Homo sapiens: one gene and its partner. The protein of the gene in region 1 interacts with the protein of each later gene in a pairwise test. Each region holds a gene or a part of one and is shown on either strand. Other genes may lie near its edges.

What was found. Proteins that work in one complex are often made in the same cells at the same time.
Region 2: the proteins of ZNF496 (region 1) and ARR3 interact in binary tests that used the Homo sapiens proteins (3 or more experiments, as listed by UniProt).

The regions. Positions count from the first base shown.
Region 1 is NC_000001.11:247,296,876-247,300,872, reverse strand, and holds the end of ZNF496 (zinc finger protein 496), read left to right. Parts: coding exon 1-354; 3' UTR 355-3,458; downstream 3,459-3,997. UniProt on the Homo sapiens protein: DNA-binding transcription factor that can both act as an activator and a repressor.
Region 2 is NC_000023.11:70,278,290-70,282,340, forward strand, and holds the end of ARR3 (arrestin-C), read left to right. Parts: intron 1-214; coding exon 215-352; intron 353-1,905; coding exon 1,906-1,989; intron 1,990-2,269; coding exon 2,270-2,293; intron 2,294-2,476; coding exon 2,477-2,529; intron 2,530-2,809; coding exon 2,810-2,819; intron 2,820-3,386; coding exon 3,387-3,477; 3' UTR 3,478-3,551; downstream 3,552-4,051. Other genes in the region: RAB41 (ras-related protein Rab-41), read left to right, coding at 3,929-4,051. UniProt on the Homo sapiens protein: May play a role in an as yet undefined retina-specific signal transduction. Could bind to photoactivated-phosphorylated red/green opsins.

The sequences.
Region 1 (3,997 bases):
AGCTTCCGCCTGAACTCCCACCTGCTCTCCCACCGGCGGATACACCTGCAGCCGGACAGACTCCAGCCGGTGGAGAAGAGAGAGCAGGCGGCATCCGAGGACGCGGACAAGGGTCCCAAAGAGCCGCTGGAAAACGGCAAGGCCAAACTGAGCTTCCAGTGCTGTGAGTGTGGGAAGGCCTTCCAGCGGCACGACCACCTGGCTCGGCACCGCAGCCACTTTCACCTGAAGGACAAAGCCCGGCCCTTCCAGTGCCGGTACTGCGTCAAGAGCTTCACGCAGAACTATGACCTCCTCCGCCACGAGCGCCTGCACATGAAGCGCCGTTCCAAGCAGGCTCTGAACTCCTACTGAGCCTCTCCGCCTGGGGCGGCCTCACCCTGGCTGGTGCTGCCCCCTCACCTTGGTACTGATCAGCGCCCCCACCCAGGACATACCTTCCCCAGGATAGAGAGCACACCTCCCTCCTGTCCTTGCTCTCAGGTAGTGAGCGTTCGGGTGGTGCCATGGGAGCACTCTCCCTCCCCCAGGTAATGAAAGAGTGGCCAAGTGAGTGTTCTGTTTCTGCTGTGCCAAAAAACGGGGGGGATGTGCCATCACCAGGTTGGACATGCCAGGTGTTCTGCGTCTTAGAGACCCTTGGCCCATGCTCCCCAAGCTCGGGGAGTAAAACTGGGCTATCCCCCGTCAGGGCGGCACCCTGGTCACCAGCCAAACCTCAGTATACTCCCTCCCCTCCTTCCCTGTCTGAACGCTAGGATCTGCTCCTGAAGCTCCAGGATGCCTGCACTTCCACTGAGAAGCTGCTGGCGGATGTTGGACTAGAGGAAAGAAGAAGGCAGGGTGGGACTGATGGGCTCAGTGGGGAGCAGGGCCAGGCACACTGAGCCAGACATGTCATGTCTGAGCCCCAGATTCGTGGCCATCAGGTAGGCAGGAGCACCCCGCAGATCCAAGATGATCAGGCAGCCCTTTTGGGCTGGCCTCTGTGGCAGGGGTCTGCAGAGCTCCTTCTTGAGGTTTGGAAACAGTCGTCATACCTGTTGATTTTCCTGGGGGCCAATCACTAGGGATCTGGAGCTCACCAAAAACAAAGCTTACATTTTAATTTGTGTTGCACACCTACCCCATAATGTCTTTATACCCCAAAGATCCTTGGTAAATGCTTGTGGGTTGGAAGCGGAGTTGTCATCGTTTAAAAGGCACTTAAGTCCCTTCTTCCAATCTGTCCTGTCTAGGAATGTGGAGCTCTGCCCCCAGTGAGGGGTTCTCCTGTCTGGGTGAGCCAAGCTCCAGAACAGAACCTTGCCTGACAACACACTTGATAGATACATTAGCTTGGAGTGCTGGTGTGTCCAAACACTGGCTGGCTTAGAACAACAGGAGTGTATTCCCTGACAGTTCTGGGAGGTGCACGTCCAAGATCAGGGTGTCCTCAGAGTTGGTGCCTTCCGAGAGCTGTGAGGGAGAAGCGGCTTCATGCCTTTGCTGGCAGTTGCCATTCCTTGGTGTGTGGAAGCGTCACCCAGTCTCTGCCTTCATCTCCACATGGCACTCTTGCTGTGTGCGTGTCTGTCTCCAAACCTCCCTTTGTTTAAGGACACCAGTCATATCGGATTAGAGCCCATCCCACCGACTCCAGTATAACCTCATCTGTATCCGCAGCAACCGTTTACCAATAAGGTCACATTCTGAGGTACTAGAGGTTGGGACTTCAACATCGGAATTTGAAAGGGACAGCATTCAGCCCATGACTCCAGATAAACGTGAGGTATGCTATATCATTCCTAATTTACAGATGAGTCAATACAAACTTGAGTGAGCTTGCTCACAATTCCATCAAAGGCAGGGTTCAGACCCAAGTTTCAGCATTTAGGGCAGGTGTCCTCTGCATGGAAGAATCATACTCAATAGCCGTAAACGCTGACAAATTCCCCTTCCTCCCTGCCTTCTGATGGGGGCTGGGCAGGCCAGCTGGAGCTGTGTCTCCTGCTGGGATTCCGGACTGAGAGTGACAGCAGGTAGTGAAACCTCAAGCAATTTAAAACATGGTATTGTTCCTGGAAGACTGGTTATGTTGGCTAGGGTCAGCAAGAGAGGGCATCAAGGCTGTAGTCTAGCAGTGATTTAATCTGCAAGTCAAACCAGACGGGTATTTTGTATTATTCATATGTCACATCCTACCAACAGACAGTAAGTCAGGCAAGGCTCCTGGTGCTCCTTGTCACTCACGTAATTTTCACATCAGGAAAACTCTGGGCTGGGTGCAGTGGCTCACACCTGTAATCCTAGCACTTTGGGAAACCAAGGTGGGTGGATTGCCTAGCTCAGTGACACCAGCCTGGGCCACATGGCAAAACCCCGTCTGTACCAAAAATGCAAAAAATTAGCTGGGTGTGGTGTTGACGTTTGCGGTCCCAGCTACTCTGGAGGCTGAGGTGGGAGGATTGCTTGAGTCTGGGAGGCAGAAGTTGCAGTAAGCCGAGATCATGCCACTGCACAAGCTAGGTGACAGAATGAGACTCTGTCTCAAAAATAATTAAAAAGCCTCTGCCCCAAACTCGTTAAAAGATTTTATAACCACAACTGCTGTTTCTGTGTAGATGCATCTGCATGCCCAGGAGCAGTAAATGCAATAAAATCATTTGGTTATACTTTGAACACAAAATAAACGGTTGAGGCTTTTACTTTCTAAATAGTTTGTCTCTTGTATCAACATAGCTGGAAAAGGGAGAAATCCGATTTTTAAGGCCAAGGGAGGGGAAAATTCCAAGTAGAAGCCAGGCTCTCTGTACACGTTTACCCCACCTACCTGTGTGCTCCTACCTGTGCTGAGGATTCTCTCTGTAGCTCTAAGGTCTTGGGAAGGTTATTCACCTTCCTGCTTCAGACGTCTGACTCAAGAGAAGAACACTGTTCTACTTACCAGAGTGTTTTTCTGTGTAAAACCACATCATGAAGGAGAAAGCGACAAAGGGAATGTGAGGGGCTGGAAGCCACAGGGAGGCTGTCTCTTGAGTCCCCACCACTGATCCAGAGCCAACCAAGGCACCTCAGGAAATGGAAGGCCACATTGCCTCTGGATTTGGAAATCCTCCTGGGTAATGTAACTGAAACCCAGGTTGATGCCATGCAGCAGGAGCAGCAGGGGGAACGTGCTCTCAGGAGAGGTCGGCCAACCCTCCAGCCCAACACCCTTCACCACAGTGGTGGAGGAGGCTGCACCCAGGAGATCTTTGTCTCCCTTTTGGCCACTGATACCTTTGGCCTTATCTGACAACAGCTACCCCTCGATCCTTCCCTCCCACCCCAGGGGCTGGGCAGCTGGCTGGAGCTTTGTGTCCACCTTGCTCTGGAGGTTGAGACCCCCATCTGAGCAACATCCTCTCTCTTTGTTCCTCTGATCCCTTGGCATCGTCACAAACCCACAGGTGCATAATAAAAACTTGCTGAGTCAATATTCCTGTTAGGCTTTTCATTTTCATTTAAAAAGTAAAATGTGGCTGGGCGTGGCAGCTCATTCCTGTAATCCCAGCACTTTGGGAGGCCGAGGCAGAAGGATTGCTTGAGGTCAGGAGTTTGAGACCAGCCTGAGCAATATAGTGAGACCCCATCTCTAAGAAAAAAATAGAACAATTAGCCTGCCATGGTGGCACATGCCTGTAGCTATTTTGGGGGCTGAGGTGGGGGAAGATCCCTTGAACCCAGGAGACAGAGGTTGCTGTGAACGGTGGAGGTTGCTATGAACGGTGGAGCGCCACTGCACTCCAGCCTGGGTGACAGAGCAAGACTTCATCTCAAAAAACAAAAAGTAAAATGTGAAGCACAGCCAAAACATGTTTTCTAAGACCTGCAGGCTTTAGATAGTTCTGGTCACCTGATCTGGCCCCTCCCCAAAAGAAAGAAGAAGAAATAACTGTTTCATACGCTGGGAGTAGATTGTACTCCTGGTCACACCACAGCTTTAAGCCAACCTTAGTCGTTTTTCTCTTTTCTC
Region 2 (4,051 bases), on another chromosome or scaffold:
TTACCCCCAGGAGTCCCATCACGATGCTGAGCGAGGGCAGGGGCATAAGGATTTCCCACCAGAACTAATTTCTCCCAGTCTTCAGTTAAACATGTTACCTCTCTTGGATACTCCAGTAGGTTCTTGTATAATCTTGTACAAGATACTCTTGGGAGTAAAAGTATGCTTAGTCAGCAAGCCCAGCCTAAATTCTTCTCTTGTTCTTCTTTTGTAGGGAGACTGTAGCTGCTAATTCCAGCTTCTCCCAGAGCTTTGCAGTAACCCCAATCCTGGCTGCCAGCTGCCAGAAACGGGGCCTGGCACTGGATGGCAAACTTAAGCATGAAGATACCAACCTGGCCTCTAGCACAATGTAAGCTCAAATATAACTCTCAGCCTCCATTTCCTACCCCTCAACCATTCCACATGCTACATTTACAGCTCTGAGGTTTCATGTTCAGTAAAGCCTACCTGTTTTTTAAAGTGTCTCTAGGGCAGTGTTCAGAGACTCCTCCAGGCCTAAAGGCCTGCAGCAAGCTCAATAATGCCTGTGGGACCAACGGCAGGCTTAGGTCAGCGGCAGAAAAAAAGGAAAACATGGAGAGGAAAACAATCCTTATGTTGTATAAGATTTCACAGTTCACAAAGGTCCGACATATGTACTATGCTATCTTTGTGAGAATCCCACTAAAGTAGCCTGGACAGGTGTTCTTATTCCCTTTTACACTTAAGGACCCTGAGGCTCAGAGAGAAGAAGGAACTCACTTAAAGTGGCATAGCTGATAAGTGGTAGATGTAGACAGGATTATATCACATGTCATCTGGCTCTGAATACTGTGATCTCTACAGAAGCTACTCTCTAGAAAAAATAAAGATGGAGTAGAAGACTAGGAGATGAGAAATGGAGGAAAAGGAGGACAAAAAAGGAAAATGATGCAACAGGAATTAATAGAATTCTAGGAAGTCATTCACTTGGTCCTGTGCCTTCGGAGGCCCTAGTGTTAGATGTGTCTTCCACCAAAAACCACCTGCCACCATCTGTCAAGTGTAATCCCTCCATCTCTCCATACGTCTTTTCAATCAAGTAGCTATAGACTGTTATTGCTAGAAATACCCTTAGAAATCATCCAAACTGCATTATTTTATATGTAAGAGATCAGCAGCCCAGAGCAATGAAGAGATTTTCTCAAGCTCATGCAGCTTTCGCTGTCTTATTTTTCAATCAGTGGGTTTTTTACTGAACCCCTATTACATGCTCTTTCCTATGCTAAGCAATGTGGAGAATATAAAGAAGTTTAAGACAGTCTCTGCCTTCAGTCAATTTATGGCCTAGATGAGGAACGAAGAGAGATGCAAATACAACCCAACAGTTAAATGTTAGTACACGTGGTTCAGAGTAAATCGCAACAAAGTTAAAAGAAGCCAGGAGAGCTGGTGAGGGCTTCCTGGAGGAGGTAGAATGAGCTAGATCTTGAAGAATGTGAAGGATCTGGATACCAACAGAGGAAAAAAAGGAGCACTGTAGACTAGGGACACAGCATGGGCAAAGGCTAGAAGGTGGGAATCCACATGGCATGTTCTGATCACGGAGAGAAGATGGGTCTGCTTAGGTTGTATCCCAGGAGTTAGGGGAGAAAAGGTTAGAGAGGCTAGATAGGGCAAGGTTGTTAGGGGTCTTGAAAGTCAGGCAGAGTAGTTGTTATATTCAAAAGGTAGGCTCTTGAGCAGAGAGTGACATGGTAAAAGTGAATGTCAGGAAGAGAAATGTGGTCTCAACGGGTAGGAAAGGTTAGAGCCTGGGAGATATTCTGGGATAAGACTAAACATAATAGGGTGTGGTGATAGGAATGCATGAGAAGAAACTGGGGACAGAATGAATTACTCTTCATGCCCCAAACACCCTAAAACGAATACTACAACCTCCAGTATTAGACCGGGAATGGACAAAGAGCTGCTGGGGATCCTGGTGTCCTACAAAGTCAGAGTCAACCTGATGGTGTCCTGTGGTGGGTAAGTGAGGGTTCTGGGTCTGTCTGGGCAGGGGCTGAAGAGTCAAGGGCTTTTCGCCTCTGTTTTTCTCCCAGTTAGATTGACCCAATCAAACCATTCCCCACCCTTTCTCCCAGACCAGGTTCCCAAACCTGTGAGCTCAGTGAGCAAGTCACTTTCCCTTCCAGAAACCCATTCTGTGGCTGGCTCATTAGGTCTTATGATCCCTCATCCCCTTGTGAAACTAGGTTGCCCCTTCTCTATTTCCCGCTGCTAATTTTGGGTGTCATTCTACCCACAGCATCCTAGGAGACCTGACAGCCAGGTGAGAGACTGTGGGGTGGGGGAACTTGGGCAAGAAGAGGAGGACAAGGGGATAAGGAGAGCAAAATAATGATTGATTCTGGAGGGTCTGAGGGCATCCAAAGACTGGAAAACTAAGGGAGGGAGGTTCAGGGATTGGGCTTGTAGAGAGAGGAGATGTAACTCCACCTTGGGATCCTTGCAGCGATGTTGGTGTGGAGCTACCCTTGGTCCTGATCCATCCGAAGCCATCTCATGGTGAGTGACCAGGTGGAACTCACAGGGACGGCTGTCCTGAGGGCTGGGGTCCAAACCATTCTGATCTCATGAATTGGAGACTAGCAGTTTGCCTGGGGATGGAATAGCAATAGGTAGGCTGGGTGTCTAGGTATTCAGGGGAAGTGTGTGTGTCGTGTGTGCTGGAGCAAAGGATTGGGAAGTTGGGGGGGGGGGAAGTAAAGATACTTCTTCAGGGAACCGAAGAGCCTCTAATCAGCTTCAGCTCCATTTTTTCCCTCCGTCTCCATGCTTGCTACAGAGGCCGCTAGGTAATGGAATACAAGATTGGGAAGCCCCATTCCCCTCTTCCCATTTCCACCCTCCATGTTATGACGATAGAAATGTGAAAATGCTTCCTTGGGGTGCTTTCAATACATGTGCAGTGGAAACATATGGCTTAGCTTCGTGTCACAGTTCGGTGCTTTTCATATGCCCTCCTTTCCCTTTCTGCATCCCCCCGCCCTCCACCTTCTGCTCTTGTTGGAATCATCCTTCCCCCTCATCCCCTTCCCATTTTTCTTTTTCCTTTTCCCCCACCCGCTCGCCCTTACTTCTTTCGTCTTTCATTCTTTGATACCTTCCCTCCTTCCCATCCCTCATCCTTATGTCCCTTTCAGTGCTCCTGGGGGACTTTTGTGCTGGGAAATTTGGGCGGGAATGAAAGGAAACAAGCCAGAGTGGCTGATGGAAAAGTGGGGACACCAAGAGGGGGCCGAGGAGCCTACCTGGGAAGCAGGGAGGGGATCACTTTTCTGGGATCAGGAAAAAAGAGTGGACACGGAGGACACCCAGAAAGGGGTTCCTAACCTTCCATTCTCTTCTGCTGCTTCTGCAAGCTCTGAGGACATAGTCATCGAGGAGTTTACGCGGAAAGGCGAGGAGGAGAGCCAGAAGGCTGTGGAGGCTGAGGGAGATGAGGGGAGCTGAGCACCTCGCTCTGGTGCCCGTCTGTGTGGGAGCCCCCACTGTAACACTCTAATAAATCAGTTTGTTCAGATGTGCCTAGCGATCTCTTGCCTATTTCCTCTTCCTGGAGGGTCACGGAACTACTGAGAACAATCTTCCCCACCTCCACCCCTTTGCTGTGATTACACTACACTTAGCCCGTGCTTTTCCCCATACGCTGACCCCAACTTCCCTCTGACACGGTCAGTGGCCATCCCTCTCTCCACCCCATGACCCCACTCGAGTGGTCATAGGATTGCGCTGAACACCAGGCGCAGTGCAAGCTGCCAGGAGGGGGCCGAGGGGGCGTGGCCATGCCCAGGCCTGGGTGTGAAGCCAATGGCCGTCAGCCGACGTCAGTAGAGCATGGCGTGAAGTCCGGCGGCTCAGGCTGAGCGTTGGAAGCCATTTTGGCTGCAACCTACCTGAAGCGATGTCTGCCTTTGGTCACGACGAGGCCTGGATGGAGGCCGGAGGCTTTGGTCTGGAGGCTGCCGAAAGAACGGAATACCAGTCTCTGTGCAAATCTAAACTCTTATTCCTGGGAGAGCAGAGC